Linked DNA regions of Homo sapiens. The protein of the gene in region 1 purifies or fractionates together with the protein of each later gene. This does not show direct contact. Each region holds a gene or a part of one and is shown in the gene's direction. Other genes may lie near its edges. The genes, in order: TMPRSS12, ABCA3, SIDT2 and SOAT1.

Region 1 (7,024 bases):
TGATTCCATTTATATAAAATTTCAAGAAAAGGCAAACCTATAGAGACAGGAATCAGTAATTTCTTTTTTTTTTTTTTTTTTTTTTTTTTTTTTTTTGAGACAGAGTTTTGCTCTTGTTGCCCAGGCTGTGTACCATGGCACAATCTCAGCTCACCACAACCTCTGCCTCCCGGGTTCAAGCAATCCTTCTGCCTCAGCCTCCCGAGTAGCTGGGATTACAGGCATGTACCTCCATGCCTGGCTAATTTTTTATATTTTTAGTAGAGACGGGGTTTCTCCATGATGGTCAGGCTGGTCTTGAACTCCTGACCTCAGGTAATCTGCCCGCCTCAGCCTCCCAAAGTGCTGGAATTATAGGCGTGAGCCACTGAGCCCAGCCCATCAGTCATTTCTTAAGTGTGGGGCTGGAGCTGGGAATTGATTACAAGTGAGCATAGGAGGACTCTGTGAGGTGAAGGAAATACTCTAAAACTGGATTGTGGTGCTGGTGTAAATTTAGCAGAAATCACTCAACTGCATTGGTACAATGTGTGATATTCATGTTATGTAAATTAAACCCTAATAAAGCTGTAAAAAAATGACAAAAGGGTAAGCTTTTTAACATCACACATTTGGAGAATTCAAAACACACTACTAAATGACTCATATGTCAAAGAGGAAATCATAATAATTTTAAATACTTAGAATTGAACAATAATGTATATGGTACATAACAAAACTTGAGAGCTGCAGATAGAGGTAAAACATAAAATTTAAAGTTTTAGAAATATATATTTTTAGTTTGAGTCTAGGTGCTGTGGCTCACGCCTGTAATCCCAGCACTTTGGGAGGCTGAGACGGGCAGATCACGAGGTCAAGAGTCCGAGACCAGCCTGGCCAACATGGTAAAAAACCTGTCTCCACCAAAAATACAAAAAATTAGCTGGGCGTGGTGGCGTGAGCCTGTAATCCCAGCTACTTGGGAGGCTGGGGCAGGAGAATCACTTGAACCCCTGAGGCAGAGGTTGCAGTGAGCCAAGATAACGCCACTGCACTCCAGCCCAGGGCGAGACCACTTCAAAAAAAAAAAAAAAAAAAAAAAAAAAAAAAAAAAAAATATATATATATATATATATATATATATATATATATATATATATGTTTATTTAGTTAGTTAGTTTGAATCATACGGAAGAGCAAACATTTGACCTAATATTGAAGAATAAAGTCTGAACACTATGAATTCAAAGTCTAGCTTTTTTAAAGTTTAAATAAACATTGCACTGGCCAAGCACAGTTGTTCACACCTGTAATCCCAACACTTTGGGAGGCCAATGTGGGAGAATTGCTTGGGCCCAGGAGTTCAAGACCAGCCTAGGCAACAGAGCAAGACCCCATCTCTCTAAAAAAAAAAAAAAAAAAAAAAAAAAAGAATATTACAGCCAGACATGGTGGTACATGTCTGTAGTCTCAGCTACTATGGAGGGAGGCTAAAAAAAGAAAGAACATTCTAAACCCATAGAAAGCAGAAAAAAAGACATAAAGGTAAGCACTGCAGTTAATGAACAGAAAATAAAGATAGAAAAGAGAAAACCAACAAGCCAAAATCCAGTTTTCTGAAAAAACAACAAACCACTGGTAAGACTGGTGACAAAAGGAAAGAAGGCACAAATACAAATTAATATTATGAACTAACATATAGCACAGTACTTTTTAAAATGTTATGCTGTAAATTTTAGTACTTAGACAAAACGAATAAATTCCTTTGTAAATAACCCAAACTGAAATTAATAAATTGACTAAATATGAAAATGGTAACTAACCAAAACTGACCAAAGAAGAAATGGAAATCCTCTATAGTCCTATAGAGTGTAAAGGAATTGAATCAGTAGATTTCTTTTTCAAAAATAAAAAACCAGAACTCAGAACAAGTGAGTTCTACCATAATACCAGAGACAGATCATCTAAATCCTATACATACGCTTCCAAAGAATACAAAAGGAAGGAATATACTCCAGCTCAGTGTATGAAATAATCATATTATTGATTCCAAAATCAAGTAAACGCAGTAAGAGAAAGCCCAACGTTATAAATGCAGGCATTTCAAACAAATTATTAGTAATAACACACTAAATCTACAAAGTATATTATAGATAGAATTGATGGTCAGGTACAGTGGCTCACATCTGTCATCTCAGCACTCTGGGAGGCCAAATTAGGAGGCTTGCTTGAGGCCAGGAGTTCAAGATCAGCCTGAGCAACATACTGAGACACTGTTGCTACAAAAAAAACCAAAAAATTATCTGGGCATAGTGGTGCACACCTGTAGTCCTAGCTACTCAAGAGGCTGAGGCAGAAGGATCACATGAGCCCAGGAGGTTGAGGCTGTGGCAACCTATGACTGTGCCACTACACTAGGCACCAGCCTAGGCAACAGAGCAGGACGCTGACTCAAAAAAAATAGAATTAATCATAACCAAATTAGGTTTATCTCAGGAATCCAAGGGTTTAAAATTAGAAGTCAGCCAGCTGTGGTGGTTCACACCTGTAATTCGAACACTTTGAGAGGCCAAGGCAGGAGAATTGCTTGGGCCCATTCAAGAATGGCCTGGGCAATATAGCAAGACCTCAACTCTACAAAAAATTTAAAAATTAGCTGGGTGTGGTGGTACACACCTGTAATCCCAGCTACTTGGAAACTAAGGAGGGAGGATTACTTGAACCCAAGAAGCAGAGGTTGCAGTGAGTACGTCACTGCACTCCAGCCTGGGTGACACAGCAAGATTCTGTCTCAAAAAGTAAATAAATAATAATGAAATAAAATAAAATGAGAAGTCTCAGCTGGGTGCAGTGGCTCATGCTTGCAATCCAAGCACTTTAGGAGGCCAAGGTGGGAAGATCACTTGAAGCCAGGAGTTTGAGAGCAGCCTGGGCAACACAGCAAGACCCCATCCCTACCAAAAATAACAATTAGCTGGGCATGATGGCACATGCCCATAGTCCCAGGCACTCGGGAGGTTGAGGTGGGAGGATTGCTTGAGCCCAGGAGTTTGAGGCTGCAGTGAGCTAATTGTGCCACTGCACTCTGGGACCCAGGCAAGAGGGCAAGACCCTGTCTCAAAAATAATAATATAAATAAATAAAATTAGAAGTCTCTTGATGGAATTCATCACAGATTGGTTAAAGGATAAAAAATATTTTCTGAATAAATGCAGTAGAAGCATTGTTAGAAACTCTTAACAGTCTAGACATAGAAGGGAATTTCCTTAACCTAATTAAGGTTAATGACCTCTAACCTACAGCAAACATCATTACAGTAAAACATTCCTTTAAAATCAAGAACAACTTCTCCACTTGTATTCAATACTGTAGAAGTACTACCAAGTGTGTTAATACTAGAAGAAGGTACACACACAACTTACAAAGGAAATAACAAAATATTCATTAGTCACAGATGATGTAACTAAAATAGGCTCTAAAATCCATTGGAATTAACAGAGTTTAGTAATACAGCCAGCATAAGACCATATACAAAATCTACTCCATTTCTATACACTAGCAGTAATTTTAAAACAGCCTCCCAAAGTGCTGGGATGACACACAAGGATGACTATAATTAAAAAGTTAGACAATAACAAGCATTGATGAGGATGTGAAGAATTTGAAACCCTCGTACTTTGCTAGTGGGAATATAAAAAGGCACATCTGGCCAGGCATGGTGGCTCACACCTGTAATCCTAGCACTTTGGGAGGCCGAGATGAGTGGATCACTTGAAGTCAGGAGTTCGAGAACAGCCTGGCCAACATGGTGAAACCCCATCTCTACTAAAAACACAAAAATTAGCTGGGCATGGTGGTGAGTGCCTGTAATCCCAGCTACTCAGGAGGCTGAGGCAGGAGGATTGCTTGAACCTGGGAGGCAGAGGTTGTAGTGAGCCGAGATCACGCCACTGCACTGCAGCCTGGGTGACAGAGTGAGACGCCATCTCAAAAATTAAAAAAAAAAAAAAAATTAGCCAGGTGTGGTGTTGCACACCTGTAATCCCAGTTACTCAGGAAGCTGAGGCACAAGAGTTGCTTGAACCCAGGAGGCAGAGGTTGCAGTGAGCCGAGATCACGTCACTGCACTCCAGCCTGGGCAATAGATCAAGACTCTATCTCAAAAACGAACAAACAAACATTTAGGTAAACATTCTTCTACAATCTTCCTAGGCATACATACATATTCATACACATATATATGAATATAATTTTACATAATTATTGCATCAGTCACTTTGGAAAGAAAACATAAAACACTAACATTTAAATCACTGTAAAAATGTCTGCTCCAAGATAACTTACTGGTATTTTTTGTTAACAGGTAACGCTACAAATATTTTACAAGATGCAGAAGTGCATTATATTTCTCGAGAGATGTGTAATTCTGAGAGGAGTTATGGGGGAATAATTCCTAACACTTCATTTTGTGCAGGTGATGAAGATGGAGCTTTTGATACTTGCAGGGTAAGACCAAGTAATTTTCCTTTAAAATATTTTCTGAAGCCAGAAGGGAACTTGTCAAACAAGGCCTTTGATAACTTTCTGGTGGTCTTAATTATCAGGCCTAAAAATAATAAATCATTTTTTCTCCTTTTTAACTATTTCAACAATCCAAATCTTCTTGGTTCCTGATTCCATGGTTTCTGCTGTCATCAGTAGGCAGAATTTACCTTGAATTCTTTTTTTTAATCATTACCTTTGAGATATAATTCACCTAGTTAAAAGTGTACAGCTCAATTTTTTTTTTATTTGAGATAGTCTCGCTTTGTCACCCATGCTGGAGTGCAGTGACACAATCTCTGTTCACTGCAACCTCTGCCTCCCAGGTTCAAGCGATTCTCATCCCTCAGCCTCCTAGGTAGCTGGAATTACAGGCACACATCACTATGCCCGGCCATTCTTTTTTTTTTTTTTTGTATTTTCAGTAGAGACAGGGCTTCACCTTGTTGACCAGGCTGGTCTTGAACTCCTGACCTCAAGTGATCTGCCCACCTTGGCCTCCCAAAGTGCTGGGATTACAGGGGTGAGCCACTGCGCCCAGCCTGTTACTGTCTTTTTTATTATAACCATCCTTGTGGGTGCGCAGTGGTATCTCATAGTGGTTTTAATTTGCATTTCCTTAATGACTAATGATGTTGAGCATTTTTGCATGTATTTATTAGCCATTTATATATCTTCTTTACAGAATGTCTATTTGGATCCCTTCCTCATTTTTAAATTGAGTTGTCTTTTTATCACTGAGTTATAAGCATTTTTCATATATTCTGGATACAAGTCCCTTACCAGATACATAATGTACAAAATTTTTCTCCCATTCTGTAGACTGTTTTTTCACTTTTCTGAGGTTATCATTTGCAGCACAAATGTTAATTTTTTTAATGAAGTACAATTGATCCATTTTTTGTTTTGTCTCATGCTTTTTTACTCTTCCTTTATTCCTCTTTTCTTCACTATTTCCAAAGCTACTAGTCCTTCACTCCTGAGTAACCCATGCTCTCACCTTTTCCTACTCATTCTCATTTCTGCAATCTAAAGTTTATCTTTTCTGTGTCCTTTTCCTTAAAAATCTTGCTGAATGAAATAGTAAAGAATCCAATCTAAGTGAATTGCATTCCTAGGCCAAACATCCTCATCATCAAAAAATAATTATTCAATGCCTGCCTTATATAGAGAATCGGAAACAGTTATCTCAGTGTCCTTGTTGTTTTCAGTGCATTAACAGGCCTTAGTAACAGCATTTGGGTGCATTCCTAATTTTGTATAGACTATGAAAGTGACCTGTCATTTATAATACTACTGAGAGGCTTTGCCATTTATGCTCATTTTCCTGCACTAGCTATTGTCAACACTTAGAAACTTGTCTTCTATTGCAAGATGCCAGTTTACTCCTCTCCCTGGCAAGCAAACCACACACGTGCCTAAAAGAATCCTTCATACATCTTAAAGTTATCCTTTCCACACGCAGTATTCAGCAAGAGAATATTCTAATAATAGACAGTTTTGACAATATTTTGCACACTTCCTAAATTATATTTCTCCTAAGTAATTATATTTAAAAATCCAAACAATTTGATTTATAGTATTCTGGCTCAAAACCAGGCAGATGAGAAATTTATCTACCAGCTATATGGTTCCTCCAAATACCTGGGTAAAATTGAATTCCTCCTGTTTGAGTTGGAAGTTTAAGCTCAAAATCTAGTGATCTTTATAAATTGGGGGTATATTGAAAATGTGTATTTATATAAATGTATGTTTGATGTAAATAATTTATTCCAGTGTTACTGTTGCTTGAAGAATACTAGAAGTAACAAACACTATTTTGGGACTTTTTTGACAGGGTGACAGTGGGGGACCATTAATGTGCTACTTACCAGAATATAAAAGATTTTTTGTAATGGGAATTACCAGTTACGGACATGGCTGTGGTCGAAGAGGTTTTCCTGGTGTCTATATTGGGCCATCCTTCTACCAAAAGTGGCTGACAGAGCATTTCTTCCATGCAAGCACTCAAGGCATACTTACTATAAATATTTTACGTGGCCAGATCCTCATAGCTTTATGTTTTGTCATCTTACTAGCAACAACATAAAGAAATTCTGAAGGCTTTCATATCTTTATTTTGCATTGTGTCCCTTTCTATGTTCTATATAATGAACATCATTTATTCTTCTAGCAATTAATTGCCTACATTAGAGATTTCATGTGAACATTTTATGGGCTATAAGTATTGTGACAGATATACAATTGTAATTTTGGCACTGAATCACATGTCTCCTTGAAATATCTTGATTATTTTATAATCATAATTCTGTATCTGGAATACTCATAGAGTTTGTACAAAATATTCAGTTAAACATATATTTTATGTGTATAAATGCCAAATAATAGTTTATAATTAAAATGAAAGCTGTCATTTGGTTAAATTAATAAAAATTCTTTCTTAGATTTTATTCTAAAAAATGTTTGTATGATTTTTTTAAATTATAATCTTGTTTCCAATTCT
Region 2 (7,024 bases), on another chromosome or scaffold:
TGTTCCTACCTCATCCCCACAAGGGCCACTGAGGTTATAAATTGGCCTTGGCCAGTGCAAGTGATTCACATCTGTAATCTTGGCACTTTGGGAGGCCAAGGCGGGAGGATCACTTGAGGCCACAAGTTGGAAGAACAGCCTGGGCAACATGGCAAGATCCCATCTCTAAAAAAAAAAAAAAAAAAATCAAACAATTAGCCGGGCATGGTGGTGCACACCCATGGTCCCAGCTATTTGGGAGACTGAGGTGGGAGGATCACTTGAGCCAGGAGGTCAAGGCTACAGTGAGCCATGATCACACCACTATCTATACTCCAGCCTAGGCAAAAGAGTGAGACCCTGCATGAAAAAAAAAAAAAGGCCTCAGACTTTTTTTTTCATGTGTACTGTTATGTGTAAAAGAATGAATGTAAACATGCAGCCCAATATATATTATGTGTTATAAATTACAATTACTGTCCTGATGTATTATGGACATAGAAATATATACAAATTTGGATCTTTTAAAGGGACGAAGGCCAGACAGACATGGTGGCTCACACCTGTATACCCAGCACTTTGGGAGGCTGAGATGAGACAATCCCTTAAGGCCAAGAGTTTGAGAACAGTCTGGGCAACATAGTGAGACCCTGTCTCTACTAAAAAAAAAAAAAAAATAGCCAGGTATGGTGGCGTGCACCTGAAGTCCCAGCTACTGTGGAGGCTGAGGAGGGAGGATCGCTTGAGCCTGGGAATTCAAGAATGCAGTGAGCTATAATGATGCCATTGCACTGCAGCCTGGGAAACAGAGCAAGACCCTGTCTCTAACAGAGAAAAAAAAAAAAGGATGAGAGGTGAAATAAACATGATTAAATTTATCCAACATATGAATGCTACAAAAACTATTGTATAAACATGCTTTTTAAAGATGAAAGCCATGTGTCCACATCCCATTTATAAACTCTCATTGAATCCTAAGTCCCAGCATTTAAGATCAATTGTAAGTTCTGTTTATTGGCCAGACGAGGTGGCTCACGCCTGTAATCCTAGCACTTTGGGAGGCCGAGGTGGGTGGATTGCTTGAGGTCAGGAGTTCTAGACCAGCCTGGTCAACATGGTGAAACCCCGTCTCTACAAAAAAAAAAAAAAAAAAAAAAATTAGCTGGGCGTGGTGGCGGGCACCTGTAATTCCAGCTACTCAGGAGGCGGAGGCAGGAGAATCACTTGAACCTGGGAGGCAGAGGTTGCAGTGAGCCGAGATTGCACCTTTGCACTCCAGCCTGGGCAACAAGAGTGAAACTCTGTCTCAAAAAAAAAAAAAAAAGTTCTGTATATTTCAGGCCCTAGTTATTAACAGCATTTACACATTAACATGATACAGAGAAAGGCACAGACCCTGTGCTTACGAGGCAGGGTACTTGTTTTTCAATTTCATTTACCCATCATCTGAGGGCCCTTGATGAATTTGGGCTGGGTATGTTCAGGGGCTATCAGGGTAGGTGGAGATTCTGGTGTTGAAGATGTTTTGGTGTGCGGGTGTAAATGTTCATATAGACAGTACGCTTGTAGCATCATTGGGAACGCAGTCACGTAATTGTGGAAACCTCTTCAAACGTCTGTTTTCACAAATGCTCTATTCTTGGTACAGATTCTTTTTGAAAAGCTGTAACTCTCATATACTGTCACTTTTTCTTTGAAGGGACAGATTACGTTGTGTCTATTTAAAAGAAAAAAGGTAGATGACACACTGCTGCAGTCATTTGTCATTAAAAACGAAAAAATGTCTCCGGATTTGGAACTTTTCACAAAAGAAAATCTGTACCTTCTCCTTAAATTCTCTGACTCTTTGAAATACTAAGCCATGAAATGACCAGTAAACCTCCAAGTCACACAAAAGATACTCATGGTCATTTTCCACATCACTGCGAAGCATTGTAAAGCTTTCGCTATTTAAGGGTCTTGAGTTTTTGTGGTTTGTTTGTTTGTTTTAATTGACCACAACTGGAAAGCTCTGAAACTTGTAAACTCCAACACGCCTAGGATGCTTAAAGTAGACTTGTGGTGAGGGCCCACCATCACTCCCCACATCACAGGGTGCCTCCTCCTCAGTCAGGATGCCACGGCTGCTGACATACAAGCCAGCGTGAACACCAGGGTCTGTCCAAGTATTAAATGTCAGTAAAGCTGGCAGGGTGTGGTATCGCATGCCAGTGGTCCCAGCACTTTGGGAGGCTGAGGCAAGAGGATCATTTGAGCCCAGGAGTTTGAGACCAGCCTGGGCAACATAGTGAGACTCGTCTCTACAAAAAAAAGCCAGGTGTGGTGGTACATGCCTGTAGTCCCAGCTACTTAGGAGGCTGAGGCAGGAGGATCACACCACTGCATTCCAGCCGGGATAACTGTGTGTGACTGAGATCCTGTCCCTACAGGAAACAAACAAACAAACAAACAAATCAGTGAAGCCATTTTTTTCACATTTTTAAAGAAAAATACTTACAAGTAGATTTTTTCATCACTTTTTCACTGCTGCAGGTTGTCTAGCCCACCCCATTTGGAGACCACTGGGAAGGGGTGAGGACCATACTCTATAAATGTGCCTGCTTTTTTTATATATTAATAATATTTAGGGCCGGGCACAGTGGCTTACACCTGTAATCCCAGCACTTTGGGAGGCAGAGGCAGGCAGATCACTTGAGGTCAGGAGTTCGAGACCAGCCTGGCCAACATGGTGAAACCCCGTCTCTACTGAAAATACAAAAATTAGCTGGGCGTGGTGGCGAGTGCCTGTAATCCCAGCCACTCAGGTCGCTGAGGCAGGAGAATCGCTTGAACTCAGGAGGTGGATGTAGCCATGAGCCAAGATCACGCCATTGCACTCCAGCCTGGGCAACAAGAGTGAAACTCCGTCTCAAAAAAAAAAAAAAAGAACTAATATTTAAGTCTGGCACGGTGGCTCACACCTGTGATCCTAGCACTTCAGGAGGCTGAGGCAGGTGGATCACCTGAGTTCAGGAGTTCAAGACCAGCCTGGCCAACATAGCAAAACTCCATCTCTACTAAAAATACAAAAAATTAGCTGGGTGTGGTGGCGGGCATCTGTACTCCTCAGCTACTTGGGAGGCTGAGGCAGGAGAATCACTTACTTGAACCTGGGGGCCGGAGGTTGCATTGAGCCAAGATCGGGCTGCACTCCAGCCTGAGTGATAGAGCGAGATGCCGTCTCAAAAAAAAAAAAAAAAATTACTGGTGTTTGGGCATTTCATCCACAGGATCCATTGAATTAGACATTTTCAAATATTTACTGTGTACCCGTCTCTCAAAAAAGATAATGTCCTAGATAAAGGATTAAACAAAACCAGTCACCCTCACCCAGCATCACTGCCCATTGGGACACACCCCGAGCTCCCTTCTTGGTGCAACATCCAGCGCCTTGATGACATGGGCCCAGGGTCTGCGCCTTTCCTGGCTCATTCTCTGCACTGCCACTCGGAATGACTCGCTGCTCCCCATACACAGTCTGTCTCCAGGATCCTGTAATGTCCTTCCTGTCCCAACTAATGAGTCATTCAAGACCGGCTTCCCATGTCACCTCCCCCCATCACCCTCCCGGGCCATCTCCCTGTCTTGCTCGCTGTCTCACACACGCAATTAATTCCTGTCTTCTCCTGAATCTTGCCATACTTTATTTAGCATCCGTCACAGCAATTACAGTGCATGCAAGTGTTCAGGGACTGTGAACTCCTTGGATTAAGAATGTTATCATCGGCCAGGCGTGGTGGCTCATGCCTGTAATCCCAGCATGCACTTTGGGAGGCTGAGGCGGGTGGATCACAAGGTCAAGAGTTTGAGACCAGCCTGGCCAGCATGGTGAAACCCTGTCTCTACTAAAAATACAAAAAATTGGCAAGGCATGGTGGCGCACGCCTGTAATCCCAGCTACTCAGGAGGCTGAGGCAGCAGAATCGCTTGAACCCAGGAGGCGGAGGTTGCAGTGAGCTGAGATCACACCACTGCAGTCCAGCCTGGGCAACAGAGTGAGACTCCGTCTCAAAAAAAAAAAAAAAAAGAATGTTATTTTCATTTCCAAATCCTTAGTACCTTGTACAAGTGCCCATCAGACAGCAAAAACTTGGCAATTGTTGAATGAACAAATGCTTTTTTGTCTTGTATACCCTAAAAGACCATGGATTCTACCGGCCTCCATTAATTGACTGTCCTCCGTGCCTCAGTGCGCATACACGCGGATCTTTGATGCTGGCTGGCTGTTGCAGACTCCTGGTGTCAATATTGGGATGTTGGGTCCTCCCCTGAAGGAAAAGCACCAAATGTGACCAGCACCACACCTGTGGCAAAGCGAGCAGAGCCATGGTTGGCGGCTCTCTTTGTGCATCTTGGGGCGGTTCACCTGTGGCTTTATCAAGGCCCCCTTCTTTCCATGAGTGGATTTCTCTATGCCTTTGTGGACAGGCTTTCATGGAGGGAGGTGTAACCAAGCTCAGAATACAACAGGAACACATGGCGTAATGGGTCTTGTGCCCCTCACTCTGGCCTGTCCCTTCTGTTCATGGGTCTCAAGACCCACCACCCCCAGGGACCTCTGCTCCATATATGCAGATATAAAAACTTCTTTTGAAAGGGCTCATAAGGGCCAGGCAGCATGGCTCATACCTATAGTCCCAGTACTTTGGGAGGCCAAGATGGGAAGAAGATTGTTTCAGGCCAGGAGTTTCAGACCAGCTTGGGCAACATAGCAAGACTCCATCTCTGCAAAAAATATAATAAGTAGCCAGGTATGGTGGCATGTGCCTGTGGTCCCAGCTGCTCAGGGGGCTGAGGCAAGACGATCACTTGAGCCCAGGAGCACCAGGCTGCGATGAGCCCTGCTCACGCAACGGCACTCCAACCTGGGTGACAAAGCAAGACTGTGTAAAAAAAAAAAGGGCACATAGGAATTGGGTGGCAAATTCAAGCCTATGGTGCACACAAAAATACCTGCAAACCACAAATAAAGAAATGGAGGAGGCAATCGGTGCGGGTCTTTGGACACAAGAAGACAGCCACAGCTGTGGCACACTGCAAACGCGGCAATGGTCTCATCAAGGTGAACGGGCGGCCCCTGGAGAAGATTGAGCCGCCCACGCTACAGTACAAGCTGCTGGAGCCAGTTTTGCTTCTCAGCAAGGAGCGATTTGCTGGTGTGGACATTCGTGTCCGTGTGGAGGGTGGTGGTCATGTGGCCCAGATTTATGCTACCCGTCAGTCCATCTCCAAAGCCCTGGTGGCCTATTACCAGAAGTATATGGATGAGGCTTCCAAGAAGGAGATCAAAGACATCCTCATCCTGTATGACCGGACCCTGCTGGTAGCTGATCCCCGTCCCTGCGAGTCCAAAAAGTTTAGAAGCCCTGGTGCCTGTGCTCGCTACTAGAAATCCTACCGATAAGCCCATCGTGACTATCAAAATTCACCTGTATAATAAACAGATTTTGAAGGATTTTAAAGTTTCAAGGAAAAAAAAAAAAGAAATGGAGGAGTTTGGGATTTCTCCAATTTGCTGCTGAGCACTGGCCGCCTGAAGAGCCACAGCGCTTGTTAACTGGCACAGCCGATGGCTCTTGAGCTGACAACAGTTACTGGAAAGACCATTTGTAGAAGAATTTGTGCCATCAAGAGAGTTCTGAGAAATGAGCAGCCTGCAGTATGCGCTCACTCTGCACCGAGTCAGTTGCTTACCTAAAAAACAAACATTGAGATACTCAATGATATGTGTGATGTTTAATATTTTAACAGTAAGCAAACCTTTTATAGAGAGGGGAAAAGGTTTGCCTTCCCTTTCCTGACTGTGTCCCGGGACTAGTGAAGAGAGCCTCTTCAAAGGGAAGTTCTTGAAGCTCTGCTCTTGTCCTCTTGCTGGGCAGAGGCGGCAGCTTTAGGAGTGGCTGGAGTCCTGAGTGTTTAACTTAGAGTAGCTGATGGGGGCTCAGCCGGGGCCGGTCCTGGGCCTCAGTCATCAGCACTTCTGGAGACTCTGCCGCCTCGGCGTCAAGTGCAGAAGGAACATTAACTTCTTTCTCTTGTGTACATTTGCTTTTGTAACAAAAAACTTGCCAGATTTTGTAATTCTAGGATCTCTTCCTTTAAACTCCTTTTGCTGAAACAGAACAGATGCAAGCGTAGTGTTCAGTGAGACTTTAGGTAAAGCCTCACACGTATCAGGCAACAAGCTGGGTGCCGTGGGGGCACAGAGATAAAACCTCGGCAGGGCACAGTGGCTCACGCCTGTAATCCCCACACTTTGGGAGGCCGAGGCGGGCGGATCACTTGAGGTCAGGAGTTTGAGACCAGCCTAGCCAACATGGCAAAACTCCGTCTCTATTAAAAATACAAGAATTAGCCGGGCGTGGTGGCATGTGCCTGTAGCTACTTGGGAGGCTGAGATGGGAGGATCACTTGAACCTGGGAGGTGGAGGTTGTTGTGAGCCGAGATCGTGCCCAGCCTCGGCGACAGAGCGAGACTCTGTCTCAGAAAAAAAGAAAAGAAAAGAAAAGAAAACTTCTATTAAGGTGATGGGGCTTAGGGGTCTTTTTTACCTTTCAGTTTCTGATGTTATGTTCTAGGAGTGATATGCAAAACTTGTATGAAGTTGGAAGTTGTTCTGTGTTTTTAGGACCCACAGGTTGTAGTAGTGTAGTAGTTAGAAGACAGACTTGGAAGTTAAAACAAGCCAAGGTTCAAGCCCTGACTTGGCAGCTTCTTGCTGTGTGATTTTGGGCCAGGCATTTCCTCCTTGTTTCTTCGTCTGCAAAAGGGTGATGTTCCAGGTCAGGAGATCGAGACCATCCTGGCTAGCACAGGGAAACCCTGTGTCTACTGAAAAATACAAAAAAAATTAGCCGGGCGCTGTGGTGGGTGCCTGTAGTCCCAGCTACTCGGGAGGCTGAGGCAGGAGAATGGCGTGAACCTGGGAGGCGGAGTTTGCAGTGAACAGAGATCGCGGCACTGCACTCCAACCTGGGAGACAGAGTAAGACTCCGTCTCAAAAAA
Region 3 (7,941 bases), on another chromosome or scaffold:
AACTTGTATGATGGAAAGAAGTGCTGAACTCTTGCTGGAGCTGCTTATGTCTGGGACAATTCTTTCTAAGCACCAAATGAAAAAACAGCCCTTTTTATAATCACAGTGAAAACAGAAAGCTTCAGGTTCATTTCCTTCAGAGGGGTTGGTTTTGAATCTTTTTTTTCTGGGTTAAAGTTATACCATTACATGATACTAAAATCTGTTTTGATTCTGTCTCCCACCCATAGGCATGGCTACTCCCTACCTCCCAGGTTCCTAAATAATTTGATTGGATTCAGCTAATCCATTTACTGTGATTCTTACAAAATCCTGCTCGAGTGCAGTCTTCATGTCTTTTGTGTGTGTGTGTGTGTGTGTGTGTGTGTGTGTGTGTGTGTGGCAGTTTCACTCTTGTTGCCCAGGCTGGAGCACAATGGCCTGTGGTCGCACACTGCAACCTCTGCCTCCCAGGTTCAAGTGATTCTCCTGCCTCAGCCTCCCGAGTAGCTGGGATTACAGGCGCCTGCCACCACACCCAGCTAATTTTTGTGTTTTTATCAGAGACGGGGTTTCACCATGTTGGCCAGGCTGGTCTCAAACTCCTGACCTCAGGTGATCCACCCACCTCAGCCTCCCAAAGTACTGGAATTACAGGCGTGAGTCACCGCCCCTGGCCATTTTTTTTTCTTTTTTTTTAGTGGTGTTTCACTCGTTGCCCAGGCATGCAATGGCGTGATCTCAGCTCACCGCAACCTCTGCCTCCCAGGTTCAAGCGATTCTCCTGCCTCAGCCTCCGAAGTAGCCGGGATCATAAGCATGTGCCACCACGCCCGGCTAATTTTGTATTTTTAGTAGAGACAGGGTTTCTCCATGTCTGTCAGGCTGGGCTCGAATTCCTGATCTCAGGTGATCCGTCCACCTTGGCCTCCCAAAGTGCTGGGATTACAGGCGTGAGCCACTGCACCTGACCTAATTTTCTGTATTTTTAGTAGAGACGGGCTTTTACCATGTTGGCCAGGCTGGTCTCAAACTCCTGACTTCAGATGATCCAACCGCCTTGGCCTCCCAAAGTGCTGGGATTACAGGCGTGAGTCACCGCACCAGGCCATCTTCAGGTCATTTTAACAATACCCCTGAGCCACCTGAAGCTTCCTCCCTGTCCTCTCACCCCAAACTTCATAAATCCCCTGTGACTTAAAATGGAGCTGGACTCATGGGTCCAGCAAGCTCCTCAGCTGTGTGTTGAATGGTCCCATTTCTTTGGTCCATTCAACACTCAGGCTCAGGAAGGGTGGTCCACAGGGAAATATAAGTCAAATAAGCCTTATGGCCCCACCCTGACCGCTTGAGGGCCACGGTTAGGGTTGAGCTCTTTGTATATTATGCCAGGGAATGCGGTAGCTGGACCTGTGCACAAGGCCAGGATCACATCCCTGAGGCCCCGACATCTCCCCTGTGTGCTCACAAGTCTGGCTTTGAGACACACCACTGCCTTTTTTTGCTGACTGCTGCAGCCAACAAAAAGGCATTCTCTCCCAGTGGACAGACCTCAGAAAGGACCTATTCATAAGTGCGGGGTAGGGCAGAGGGACTGAGGAAAGTTCTGCAGACCTGGGAACAGCAAGAAAATGTGCAGTTGCTGCCCTCCCACTCTGTAGACGCAGGGTCCTGACGATTCAAAAGTTAAGTCTTGAGACCTTGCAAAAGGGAAGGATCCCTTCAGAGTTTGCTTGGATGGATTTCTCTCCAGATATTGCCAGCGGAAAGGGAGCAAACAGAAATAGTGATAGTCCACAGTTGTTTGGTTCCAGAGCAGTGGTTCTCAAACTTCATTGTGCATAGCAAGCTTCTGGAGTGCCCCGTTAAATTGCAGTTTTCTGGGCTCCACCTCCCAAGATGAATTAAGTGTGAAGTAGGACTCTGGATGTGCGTTTAAAACAGGCGTAGGGTCACATCTTGCCCCAAAGTTATGAGGCCAACTTAGAGTAGTGGTGCTTGCCTGTAATCCAGCTACTCGAGAGGCTGTGGCAGATCGCTTGAAGCCAGGAGTTCAAGACCAGCCTGGGCAATGTATCACGAGTGTTTCTTAATGTTTCAGATTATTTACTGGCAAGATGAGCAGGATTACCATGAAAGAAAAGTCCAGATGGACTGAGGAAATCCTACACTGATTCTCCAAACTTGGCAGCTGACTGCATGGAGGGCTCATGATGAAGAAACCTCTTTTGCCATCCTGAGGATTCTCTGATTCATATTCGCCTAGATGTGCTGGAAACAGTACTGGACCAAGGTGCAAACTTGAGTCTAGTGAGGTACTAATGGGCTGAAGTTTTTCTGAGCGTCACTTTCCTCATCTGTATAATGAGGGGTTGGCCAAGGAAACCCATAAGGTTATCTTCCAGCTGACTTTCTAATTGGTGAACCCTTTGGAAAAGGGGTGCAGCTTGCTTCTGGTCTTCATCCTCAAGTATGCTGTGCTTGGACAGGGGCCAAAACTAATTCCTCCACTCACCATTTGCCCAGCATAACTACAACAGTACCTGGCACATCGTGGATGCTTATTAAATATTTATTGCAGGAATGAGTAAATATAACTAACTGATCATAAGGTAAAATAGTCTTCATTGGAACAAGGCTCCAGATAGTTGGGCAGGGCTGGGAGCTGAGACTGCTGCAATCCTGCCAGCTGAGAGAACTCTGACAAGGCACTGATCTGGGTGGCTTTATTAGGATGTCTGACAGCTTCAGAGGTGGCCACATTTCTTTTCCTTTAAACATGTCTAATTTGGCCGGGCGCAGTGGCTCACGCCTGTAATCCCAACACTTTGGGAAGCCTAGGTGGGTGGATCACTCGAGGTCAGGAGTTCGAGATCAGCCTGACCAATATGGTGAAACCCCGCTTTACTAAAAATACAAGAAATTAGCAGGGTGTGGTGGCGGGTGCCTGTAGTCCCAGCTACTTGGGAGGCTGAGGCAGGAGCATCGCCTGAACTCAGGAGGCGGAGATTGCAGTGAGCTGAGATCACACCACTGTACTCCAGCATGGGTGACAGTGAGACTCCATCTCAAAAAAAAAAAAAAAAAAAAGTCTAATTTGTCTTATAAATGCAATATATGTGGCCAGGCATGGTGGCTCATGCCTATAATCCCAGCACTTTGGGAGACTGAGGTGGGTGGATCACCTGAGGTCAGGAGTTCGAGACCAGCCTGACCAATATGGTGAAACCCCGTCTCTACCAAAAATACAAAAATTAGCTGGGCGTGGTGGCACATGGCCTGTAATCCCAGCTACTCGGGAGACTGAGGCAGGAGAATTGCTTGAACCCAGGAGGCAGAGGTTGCAATGAGCTGAGATTGTGCCACTGCACTCCAACCTGGGCAACAGAGCGAGACCCTGTCTCCACCCCCCGGCAGATAAAAAAGCAATATATAAATATATATACATTGTAGAACATTTGTAAATCTTTTTAAATATAAAAAATAAAATTTAAGAACCACTCACAATCCATTATTTTTTATTTTTTGGTACTACTCTATATTTTTAGAATTAAAGGAAAATGATATACAATATGTGTTATTTTTAAAATTGTAATTCAAAGATAACTACTGCTAAATTTTATTTTTAAAATTTGCCCTGCTTTCTGGAGACATTGCTAAATGTTTAGTACAATTTTTTTCTATTTTTCTATGCATGTCTATATGCATTTGGAATATATACGGTTTTATTTACTTATTTATTTTTGAGACAGAGTCTTGCTCTGTTGCAGCCCAGGCTGGAGTGCAGGAGCATGATCTCAGCTCACTGCAACCTCCGCCTGGTAGAGTTAAGCGATTCTCCTGCTTCAGCCTCCCCAGTAGCTGGGATTACAGGCACGCGTCACCACGCCCCACTAATTTTGTATTTTTATAGTAGAGATGGGGTTCACCATGTTGGCCATGGCTGGTCTCGAACTCCTGACCTCAAGTGATCTACCTGTCTTGGCCTCCCAAAGTGTTGGGATTACACGTGTGAGCCACGGCACCTGGCTCTATATACTGTTTATTTAGTGTCATATCCTGAATTCTCTGCTTACGTGTCCTGTGAAGTCTTAAGCATCATTTTTGATGCCTTCATGATAGTGCATTTAACCAATCCCTCATTATGGATATCCAAGTCATTTCCTTTTTGCTTTATATTATAAATATCACAGTGATAAGCGTAGCTGCCCAGGTATTTTTATCTGTGCTTCCTATTTCCTTAGGATAGAGTCCAGAAGTGGAATTACTGGATCAAAGGGTATAAAGCTCTCTAAGTTTCTTGAAACAGTGCCAAAATATTTTGTAGAAAAGTTTTCACCAATTTACACTGAAGGTCAGTATCTTTCAATGAGTTTTGTAACTGTCTCTGAGAGAAGAGGGGAAACAGCCCGGCAAGCTTGGAAAGCTCGGAAGGCCGTCCCTGCAGTTGTGTGGCCCCTCTAGAGGGAGGTGGGAAAGGCATGGGGATTCCTCCTGCAGTGCTGCCTCCGTTTCCCCTCCGCCGGTAGGGCCACCGTCCTGTTTCCTAATCCTTCGAGTTTTTCATTTTTTAAGATCCCCGGAGAAAAAGTGGCCCAGGGTTGGACGATGTTAGTTGTAAAGGTGGTGGTGGGGGTGGGGGAATCCTTATGTTTGAGCAAATGTAAGAGTTGTTCAGCAAGAACCCAACACTTGGAGATTGTTAACAGAAACATCTGCCTATTCCAACGTGAGTTTCAGAGATGGTGAAAATCACGGGAGAGAGTTGGGTAGGAGTTGGAGAAGGCATTGCAAGCTTTCCCCTTCAGCTAGACAGCTGCAGCCCCTTTAAGGGCAAATGCGGGACCTGGTCCTTTAAATCTGTGTCAGTTTCCCCTGACGTCAGCGGGCGGGCCAGCAGCCCTGCTGTTTATCGCCCAGCGGCGCAGCTCACTTTTCAGTGTTCGTGCGTCGGGACGGCGCGTCCGCCCGCCCTTAAAGGGCCCGCACCTCGGAAAACTCGCAGCCCAGCACGGCGTCGGGTAGCTACCACCTATCACGCCCCTCACTCTGCGACTCGCCTTCCTCCGCGGCCAGCCCCCGCCGCCGGCTCTTCCTCCCTCCCCTTTCCCGGCGTCTCCAGGCTCCCGGCAACCAGCCGCCCTCCTTCTCACGGCCCTGGCCCGGGGCTCCAGGGTCTCAGGTCGTACTCAGCCCCTCGCGAGCTGGGACCCCTTCCCGTAGCCAGCATCCCCTCCCTCCCCGCCCCCTCCCGGCCGCCCCCTCCCCTGCGGGGACCCTGGGAGCCTCTTCGGGGCTCTTGGGAGGGGACATTTCCTAATCTCAGGCCGGGGTTAAAGTTCTGGTCCTGGTGAGATGCTGGAAGCTGCGGCCGCAGCCGCAACCCGTCCCGGAGGTGTCCTGTCTCCTGTCGCCGCCGCCGCCGCCACCACCGCTGCCACTGCCGCCCTGCCGGGGCCATGTTCGCTCTGGGCTTGCCCTTCTTGGTGCTCTTGGTGGCCTCGGTCGAGAGCCATCTGGGGGTTCTGGGGCCCAAGAACGTCTCGCAGAAAGACGCCGAGTTTGAGCGCACCTACGTGGACGAGGTCAACAGCGAGCTGGTCAACATCTACACCTTCAACCATACTGTGACCCGCAACAGGGTGAGGGCTGGGGGCTTAGGGGCCAGAGGCGAGTGGGGAAGCCGACGAGGGCTAGGCGATTCTGCCGCCCCGCTACCCTTTTGGGAGGCCCCAGGAACGAGCTGTCCTGCTAGGTTCCCAGTTCCCAGAACCACACTGGAGCCTCTTGACCAGTCCTCCTTCCTTTGCCACCAATGTTTCTCTGAAGCTCCAGCTGGGCAGTTTTTGAAGTTGGCTCATTCCCATCTTCTCTTCCGCCCCCATTCTTCCATCAGTTGTGGTCTGAGCACACATGGCTTGCTCTCTACCCTAAACCCCAGAATCTGACAGCTCTGTGGGGTCTCGGTGGGAGAGGAAACAGGCTTATTACTGGGCTTGCCCAGAAAACCTCAGGGGAATGAGACTGGCCCAGAACTGAAAAGCTCTGTGCAGGCAAGTTACATCTCAGACTCCCCAGGGAGATGAATGCAGGGCTTCCCAGCCCTCTTCCTGCCTGGGAGAGCCAGCTGGCCTTGTAAATTGAGGGTGACAGAGGTTTTATAAGGCCAACTGCAAGTTGGGTGGGAAGAGAAGGGGAATTTGTCCACTGTGAAAAATCCACTTCACCCTGACTTCTCTTTGGTTTCTTCACCAGCTGTGAGTCCCTGAGTTGAAATAGACACAGCTAGTGTGGGAAGTCTAGACCCCAGGCAGAGCTGAGATTGGGAGAATTCTTGCAACCTGGCTGTGTGGTCTCGTGCCCGGGTCTCTTGCTCTCTCTCCATGACTGCCGTTTACTGAGAAGCAATGGAGTTGAGAATGGGGAATCTGATTTTTTTTCAGAACGGGGAGTGGTTTGGTTTCTGTGGCAGGCCAGGATCTGCCCCCAGTGCCTGGTTCTCTGAAGTTTGATCTCTTTCTGCTTAGAGTCCTTTCTTCCTTTTTTCCCATATCTAAAGGCACTGGAGAGCTGTGGTTTTTACTCTTTTGGGAAATGCTGCCCTAGGGCTTGGGTTTCAGCAGCCCAATAACAAGCATTCCAAGATCGATTTGGTTTTATTTTTCCTTTAAGCTCCCATTGTTTATATATGTTCCTTCATAGCTCCAAGGGTGAAGATCACTTTATCTTTTTTTTTTTTTTTTTTTTTTTGAGACCAGTCTCACTCTGTTGCCCAGGCTGAAGTGCAGTTTTGTGATCTCAGCTCACTGCAACCTCCGCCTTCCCGGTTCAAGCGATTCTCCTGCCTCAGCCTCCCAAGTAGTTGAGATTACAGGCGCCTGCCACCATACCCAGCTAATTTTTGTATTTTTAGTAGAGATGGGGCTTCACCATGTTGGCCAGGCTGGTCTCAAACTCCTGACCTCAGATGATCCTCCTGCCTTGGCCTCCCAAAGTGCTACAAGCGTGAGTCACCGCACCCGGCTGTCATTTTATAGAGGGAGAAGTTGAGGCTTAGAGAAGTAAAGTGACTTCTCCACAGCCCTGTCCCTTGGTGGGAGCTAAGGATACAACATGGCCTTCAATACCTACCCCTCCTCAACTCCTCTGGGCTCTGGCCCCAGGTTAGCTGTTAACTAGAGCTTCCTGCTGGCTTCCTGGCTCACAGGAAGGTTGAGGAGCACTTCTTGTTCTCCTGTGTCTTCGTGTGTGGGGGCGTGTGTACACGTTTGTGTGTGCAGGCCTGTGCATCCTGTGCACATGGATAGGAATGGGGTATCCTGGAGACTCGCAAGGCCTCCACCGTGTTTCCTGGCAGAGGGTGAGACCCTGCGGTTGCTTGGGTCCTGCTGCCCTGCACATGTCTGCCGGCCAGGAGCTGCACTCAGCACAGGTCTTTCCTGGAGTCTGGGGGTTGTTCTGGCAGAAGAAGAGGCAGAGATGACTCCCTGGCCCGACCAAGATGGAGAAAGACCAAAGTAGCTGGCATGAAGGAGGGCAGGGCTCATAGTCTCTGGAGCCACGTGTCCCTGGTGGCAGAGGCTTGAGAGGCATTTCCATGTCGTTCTGCAGACAGAGGGCGTGCGTGTGTCTGTGAACGTCCTGAACAAGCAGAAGGGGGCGCCGTTGCTGTTTGTGGTCCGCCAGAAGGAGGCTGTGGTGTCCTTCCAGGTGCCCCTAATCCTGCGAGGGATGTGAGTAGGATCTGGGCATCAGGGAAGCGGGGCAGCCTAGGCCAGTCCTTGGCTGGAGCCTCAACCAGGAGCCCCCCCATTTCTCCTCCCCTTTCCCTGGGCTGGGAGGCTGGTCAACAGCACAAGGGCCGAGTCCCACCAGCCGGGAGCTTGTGCACCTCGCAGGGAGGTGGTGGAGACCAGACGGGGCGAGGTGGGGCCTCGCTCCTCTGGAGGGGCAGGCCGGCTG
Region 4 (7,024 bases), on another chromosome or scaffold:
ATGTTTTCTATGGCTTAGATGAGTTTTTATTAGACTGTGAAGATCCTTGGTCCAGAGATTGAGTAGTAGTATATTAGATTACTCAAAATCATTTAAAAGATTAGCATTATCTTTCCAAAAACAAGTTAAAACAAGTTTAAAAACCTGTTTTAGTCAGATATAAAAGATTATTTAGGAAAAGTCATCTATATTATTGTTATATTCTAAAAGAAAATTAGACCAGTCTTAAATACAAAAGTCAATGAGAAGGTAAAATCTTTGTAAATGGTTGAGTTTTATAGACGTGTAGGGTAGTAATTGGTTATCATCATCATCATGATCAACATTATAGAAACTCATGTCAATTTTAACATTTTGGAAATAGGTAGTACTTAATATATATTAAATTTAGGGAGTAGAATATGAATAGGATTAAAAAATTCTTAACATTTGAAATAGTTTGTTTCCTGTTTTTAGTGACTGGCCTTTGTTTACTTAGAAAACATCCATTTCTGGTAGGTTTTAAAGAATGTAGACCATTCTTTTTTGAGATGTTTTTGGAGAGTGGATTAAGCATCTTCTCAACTGCTTTAAGTTAACTGCTTTAAGAAAAGATTTTATGGTGTTTTAAATTTAAATATACATTATTAACTTGTTTTGTTTGAACTACATTTACAGTGAACTGCTTGAAGTGGACCACATCAGAACAATATATCACATGTTTATTGCCCTCCTCATTCTCTTTATCCTCAGCACACTTGTAGTAGATTACATTGATGAAGGAAGGTAAGACAACAAAAAAGATGGCTGGCTAGTTGATGCATGAGAAGTTAGAGGTTTTCACTAAATTTTGGTAAAGGGTAAATTGATTAAATTGCTTCAGGAAATCCTAAAGCAGCAGATTTGAGGGTGATATTCCTTTGCCCTGAAAAGTTTAACTGATGGAGAAAATTAGAAGTTTCATTACTTTTATTTTTAAAATGGTTTATTTGAATAGACCATAATCAGTAATTTCTAGGTAATTTTCCCAAATGGGAGAACTTTATACACAGTTGACCTACGAACAGCACGGGTTTGAACTGTGCATGTCTATTTATACACAGAATTTTTTCAATCAATGTGTTTAGCACTCTGTATCCATGGGTTCTACATCTGCAAGCAAAGGCTGATTGGGATCTAGAGTATTCCAGGATGCAAAACACACATATAAGAATGGCAGATTTTTCATATCTGTGGGTTCCACGGGGCCAACTGTGGGCCTCGAATTTGCATAAGTTTTGGTGTCTGCACAGTTTCCTGGAACCAACCCCCCATGTATAGGGAGGGATAACTGTATATGACTTATTAACTTTTTGATTGTCTTTATTTAAGATGGTTACTTAAAACAAGTAGCTTATTGGAATTGAAGGTTGAAAAAGTTGATATTTCTTTTTAATGTGAAAGTCAAATTATAGGCCAGGCATGGTTGCTTGTGCCTGTAATCTCAGCACTTTGGGAGGCCGAGGCGGGAGGATCACTTGAGCTTAGGAGTTGGAGACCAGCCTGGGCAACATCTCTACAAAAAATTTAAAAATTAGCTGGGCGTGGTGGCAGACACTTGTAGTTCCAGCTACTCAGGAGGCTGAGATAGGAGGATCGCTTGAGCCAGGGAGGTTGAGGCTGCAGTGGAGCTGTGTTTGTGCCACTGCACTCCAGCCTGGATGCAAAGGAGACCAGATCTCAAAATAAAATTTTAAAACTCAAATTGTAGCTTAAAAAATGACAGCGTGGTAATCATGGATTGAATTATGTACTTTTTTTGAAAATTAAGTTTGGAGATAATGGTATAGTATATTAACATATTTTTAAATTGTACCTATTTCTTCTGAAAAATCATCTTTTGTACATAAGAACGATTGCTGTTTGAATATTTTCCATAGAATATTTTACAGTTAGAAAATTAATGTGAGAATCTAATCTTTCAGAAGTTCAAAGTCCAATTATCTTAGATATCTTAAGTTTGAAGACTGTATTTATCTTAGGGCTTTTAGAAAATTTGTTTCTAAAGAACATATATTGTTGATATATATATATATATATATATTGTAAAGCAGATGGTTAGAAGCAGATCTCTAACTAGCAGAACTATTACATCCATGACTTCAGCGTATTAACGTTGTGGTGTTTCCTAAGGTTGAAAGTTTGGTGTTTGAAACTTTTAAATTCTGTGAACTCAGTGTATATTAAAAATTCACCTCTATGTTCTTTTTCTGTACCTTTTCTCCCCAGGCTGGTGCTTGAGTTCAGCCTCCTGTCTTATGCTTTTGGCAAATTTCCTACCGTTGTTTGGACCTGGTGGATCATGTTCCTGTCTACATTTTCAGTTCCCTATTTTCTGTTTCAACATTGGGCCACTGGCTATAGCAAGAGTTCTCATCCGCTGATCCGTTCTCTCTTCCATGGCTTTCTTTTCATGATCTTCCAGATTGGAGTTCTAGGTTTTGGACCAACATATGTTGTGTTAGCATATACACTGCCACCAGCTTCCCGGTTCATCATTATATTCGAGCAGGTAAGGTTTTAAGTGTTACCCAAGGCGATGCTGTCCTCGGCTAAAATAATAATAATGATGATGACATACTGATACTATTATTTTTAGCTGTATTAACTTGGATAAATTTTCATATATTGTTCTTTTGCCATTATCTGTAAAATTGTTAAACTAGAATCATCTCACCTCTTAAGTTTCATTGTAGCTTCCATGTTCTCTGAATTTTGATAAATAAATTACGTTGAACTTTTTTTTTTTTTTTTGAGACAGAGTCTCGCTCTGTCACCTAGGCTGGAGTGCAGTGGCACCATCTCGGCTCACTGCAACCCCTGCCTCCCAGGTTCAAGTGATTCTTCTGCCTCAGCCTCCCAAGTGGCTGGGACTGCAGGCGCCTGCCACCACACCCGGCTAATTTTTGTATTTTTAGTAGAGATGGGGTTTCACCATATTGGCTAGACTGGTCTCAAACTCCTGACCTTACGATCCGCCTGCCTCGGCCTCCCAAAGTGCTGAGATTACAGGCGTAAGCCACCGCGCCCGGCCACATTGAATTATTTTTGATGCATCAAGATTTTGTTTCTGAATACTTTTTGTAAAAGTCATTTAAATTATAAAATATTTTCATAATTAAAAACTTCACTTTTGAAATGTCAGATTCATTGTTTTGTCATGTAACTATATAATAAAGGTTTTATTTTAATTTGTTTATACACTTATCAGGATTTTCTGACTTTACTGGCTATCTATAATGCATTTGACTAATGGAAAGGACACTTGCAGGAGACTTTCTTTGAAGAGACATCTTTTTCCTCCTGCTTTTGTAGATTCGTTTTGTAATGAAGGCCCACTCATTTGTCAGAGAGAACGTGCCTCGGGTACTAAATTCAGCTAAGGAGAAATCAAGTATGTAATTTCTTTTGTTCATTATTTCTTCCTCCCCTCCCCTCCTCTCCCCCCACCCCATTCCCTTCCCTTCCCTTCCCTTCTTTCCTTCTTTCCTTCCCTCCCTCCCTCTCTCTTTTTCTCTTTCTCTTTCTCTCTCTCTCTCTTTTTCTTTTCTTTTCTTTGTGTAATTTCATTAGTTTAAAGGATTATTGGCTGGATATTTCACCCTTTGTTGTTTTCTGGGATGTCACATTATATAATGTAGAGATTGTGTTTTATTTCAAATATATATTATCCATATTGATTTTGAGGACCACTTCATTGTTTCCTGACTATTCCGGCTTTGCCCTTGAACCTACAATTTTAAAAAATTGATTATCTTTTGCAACTTTGCATTATTTTTATGGAATGTTAATAGCCTCATTACACCTGTGCCTGCCTATTCTTTGCAAATTGTTGCTTCACACTCTAGAAGTTATCTCAGTCACAGGAATAACTTGGTTTAAAGAGATTGGTAATATTCAATTCGTGCAAGAATAAGAAGTCATTCCGGAGATCAGGAAAAAAGAACATGAGCTGATAAGTCATTTTATTCTTCCCTGTTCTGTGCTTCCTTATATTCCCCCCTGTATTTTTGCTGTGAAAAATCAAAGAGCCTTTGCTCTAACTATAGTTTTCCTTTTCTAGGCACTGTTCCAATACCTACAGTCAACCAGTATTTGTACTTCTTATTTGCTCCTACCCTTATCTACCGTGACAGCTATCCCAGGTAATGGTACTGTGAACCAGAAATGTGGTAAACACCAAAAGTGTGGCATGAGTGAGGTGGGATAGGTAAACAGGGGCCAGTTCATGTAGGGACATAGAAAATATAGAATGAGTTTTCATTTTCTGTCTGACCTGAGAAGCCTCAAATGGTGAGTAGGGAAGTCTAATTTGATTATAGTAATTCTTGACAGAATTATAAAGTATTTCATATGGTCATAAATGATGTTCTGAATTAATTAATTTTTATTTATTTTTATTATTTTTAATTTATTTTTTATTAATTAATTAATTTTAGTTTTTTCTGAGATGGGAGTCTTGCTCTGTCACCCAGGAGTGCAGTGGTGCTATGTCGGCTCCCTGCAACCTCTGCCTCCTGGGTTCAAGTGATTCTCCTGCCTCAGCATCCCAAGTAGCTGGCATTACAGGTGTGTGCCACCACGCCCGGTTGGTTTTTTTGTATTTTTATTAGAGACGGGGTTTCACCATATTGGCCAGGCTGGTCTCGAACTCCTGGTCACTGCCTTCCAAAGTGCTTGGATTACAGGTGTGAGCCACCGCGCCTGACCAAAAAACATTAATTGTGAGGGTCTTTATTCAAGTTCAATTACTTTATTTAGAAACCTTATTTTTGTTTCTTTCTTTTTCAGGAATCCCACTGTAAGATGGGGTTATGTCGCTATGAAGTTTGCACAGGTAAGTTTTTGTAACTGCCTAAGGTATGTTGATTAGGGGATGGGGATTCATATTTATGATAATAATATAATCTAGTTAAATCTAATTGGGAGCTAAGAATGCTTTCTGTTGACATTATGCAGTCTTTTAAACTATTTCCAGTACGGTAAATGGTGTTTGTTTTGCCAACATCAAAAGTAATTTTCTTTAATAAAAGAATATATTAGGCTGGGCGCAGTGGCTTGCGCCTGTAATCCCAGCACTTTGGGAGGCCTAGGTGGGCAGATCGCGAGGTCAGGAGTTCAAGACCAGCCTGGCCAACATGGTGAAACCCCATCTCTACTAAAAATACAAAAATTAGCCTGGCGTGGAGGCACGTACCTGTAATCTCAGCTACTCAGGAGGCTGAGGCAGGAGAATTGCTTGAACCTGGGATATGGAGGTTACAGTGAGCTGAGATCACTCCTCTGCACTCCAGCCTGGGCGACAGAGCAAGACTCCATCTAAAAAAAAAAAGAATGTATTATTTATAAAGTAATTCTAATTGGTTATTTCAGTAAGCATTAATTTCCCCCTTCCTTCCTGTTTTTGGGGGAGGTATATATGTATGTGGGTATAGTCTGACTCTTACCCATTCCTCCTCCCACCTCCATCAGAATCATTAATCCTGGAAGATCCCATTTTAAATTAGTGTCTCAATCAAATGCCCATTTATGAAGTAAGTTCTTTCATTAAGGGGTTTTTTTTTTTTTTTTTTTTTTTTTTTTTTTTTTTTTTTGAGAAGGAGTCCTGCTCTGTTACCGATGCTGGAGTGCAGTGATGCAGTCTTGGCTCACTGCAACCTCTACCTCCTGTGTTCAAACGATTCTCCTGCATCAGCCTCCTGAGTAGCTGGGATTACAGGTGCCCACCACTGCGCCTGGCTAATTTTTGTATTTTTAGTACAGATGGGGTTTCACCATGTTGGCCAGGCTGGTCTCGAACTCTGACCTCAAGTCATCCACCCGCCTCAGCCTCCCAAAGTGCTGGGATTACAAGCGTGAGCCACTGTGCCCGGCCATGTTACGGGTTTTAAGCAGCAGGAAAACAGGTTCCAAGAGTAAGCTCTTCTAAAAATATCATTTGGTAAAGGGTTAGGAAAAGTGATGGTAGAAACTAGGCTTGAGTAATCTCCCTGAAGGATTATAGCAGTCTTCTATACTAGTGTTAAATGGAATACATATGCGAACATTACTGTAAGGGTCACATCTGTACTTTCTTTTGGAGAGAAAAAAATCGCCTTCCATCTTATTAAGCCATCGTTATTATAATTCTGTCTCTGTTATGTTCCAGGTCTTTGGTTGCTTTTTCTATGTGTACTACATCTTTGAAAGGCTTTGTGCCCCCTTGTTTCGGAATATCAAACAGGAGCCCTTCAGCGCTCGTGTTCTGGTCCTATGTGTATTTAACTCCATCTTGCCAGGTAACATGGGTACTTGTTAATTTGGTCATGCATAAATTCACGAGGTAAATAGAAAGCTATTGCCTATGAGCACCTTTGCTTTGCCTACTTTTTCATCTAAACTTCTATACATCTATGCCCATCTTGACCTCTTTTGCATCTACTTTATAAATGAAGTATCCTTCATCCAGTCTCAGGTCAGTCTTTCATCTTATGGCTTTCACTCAAGTTGTGCCTTTCTCTGACAGTGGACAGTCCACATTCATGCTGTGTCTTCCTGTTCGCTATTAAGTTCATTGTAATCTTGCTCCTGATTCCACCAAGCCACTTAAATGCCCCTTGTTGAAATTACTAGTAACTTGTAGAAATTACTTGTAGAAATTACTAGTAATCCATATTCTAATCCAGTGGATGGATTAAGATGTACTTTACCCCTTATCCAAGTTGACCTCCATGAAGCATTGGGTGCTGCTGACCACATTTTTAAATCTCTCTTGTCACTGTTTTCTTGCCTTTTTTTTTTTTGAAATCGGGTCTCTCTTTGTCACCCAGTCTGAATGCAGTGGTGTCATCATGGCTTACTAGCCTCGACCTCTGGGGCTCGAGTGATCCTCTCGCCTCAGTAGCTGGGACTACAGGTGCATGCCACCATGCCTGGCTAAGTTTTTATTTTTTGGAGAGACGGGGTCTCCCTATGTTGCCCAGGCCATTCTCAAACTCCTGGGCTCAAGTTATCCTCCTGTCTCAGC

Evidence for each region.
Region 2: the proteins of TMPRSS12 (region 1) and ABCA3 purify together in Homo sapiens (affinity purification with mass spectrometry; 2 studies listed by BioGRID and IntAct, with this or other methods). This does not show direct contact.
Region 3: the proteins of TMPRSS12 (region 1) and SIDT2 purify together in Homo sapiens (affinity purification with mass spectrometry; 2 studies listed by BioGRID and IntAct, with this or other methods). This does not show direct contact.
Region 4: the proteins of TMPRSS12 (region 1) and SOAT1 purify together in Homo sapiens (affinity purification with mass spectrometry; 2 studies listed by BioGRID and IntAct, with this or other methods). This does not show direct contact.

What each region holds. Positions count from the first base shown.
Region 1 is NC_000012.12:50,880,904-50,887,927, forward strand, and holds the end of TMPRSS12 (transmembrane protease serine 12 precursor), read left to right. Parts: intron 1-4,342; coding exon 4,343-4,485; intron 4,486-6,358; coding exon 6,359-6,610; 3' UTR 6,611-6,981; downstream 6,982-7,024. UniProt on the Homo sapiens protein: Required for male fertility. Plays a critical role in sperm capacitation and acrosome reactions during fertilization, and also plays a role in the regulation of proteins involved in spermatogenesis.
Region 2 is NC_000016.10:2,330,711-2,337,734, reverse strand, and holds part of ABCA3 (phospholipid-transporting ATPase ABCA3), read left to right. Parts: intron 1-5,001; exon of another isoform or gene 5,002-5,488; intron 5,489-7,024. UniProt on the Homo sapiens protein: Catalyzes the ATP-dependent transport of phospholipids such as phosphatidylcholine and phosphoglycerol from the cytoplasm into the lumen side of lamellar bodies, in turn participates in the lamellar bodies biogenesis and homeostasis of pulmonary surfactant.
Region 3 is NC_000011.10:117,173,826-117,181,766, forward strand, and holds the start of SIDT2 (SID1 transmembrane family member 2 precursor), read left to right. Parts: upstream 1-4,917; 5' UTR 4,918-5,438; coding exon 5,439-5,621; intron 5,622-7,590; coding exon 7,591-7,712; intron 7,713-7,941.
Region 4 is NC_000001.11:179,338,781-179,345,804, forward strand, and holds part of SOAT1 (sterol O-acyltransferase 1), read left to right. Parts: intron 1-657; coding exon 658-765; intron 766-2,247; coding exon 2,248-2,530; intron 2,531-3,229; exon of another isoform or gene 3,230-3,333; coding exon 3,334-3,412; intron 3,413-4,081; coding exon 4,082-4,163; intron 4,164-4,809; coding exon 4,810-4,855; intron 4,856-6,166; coding exon 6,167-6,296; intron 6,297-7,024.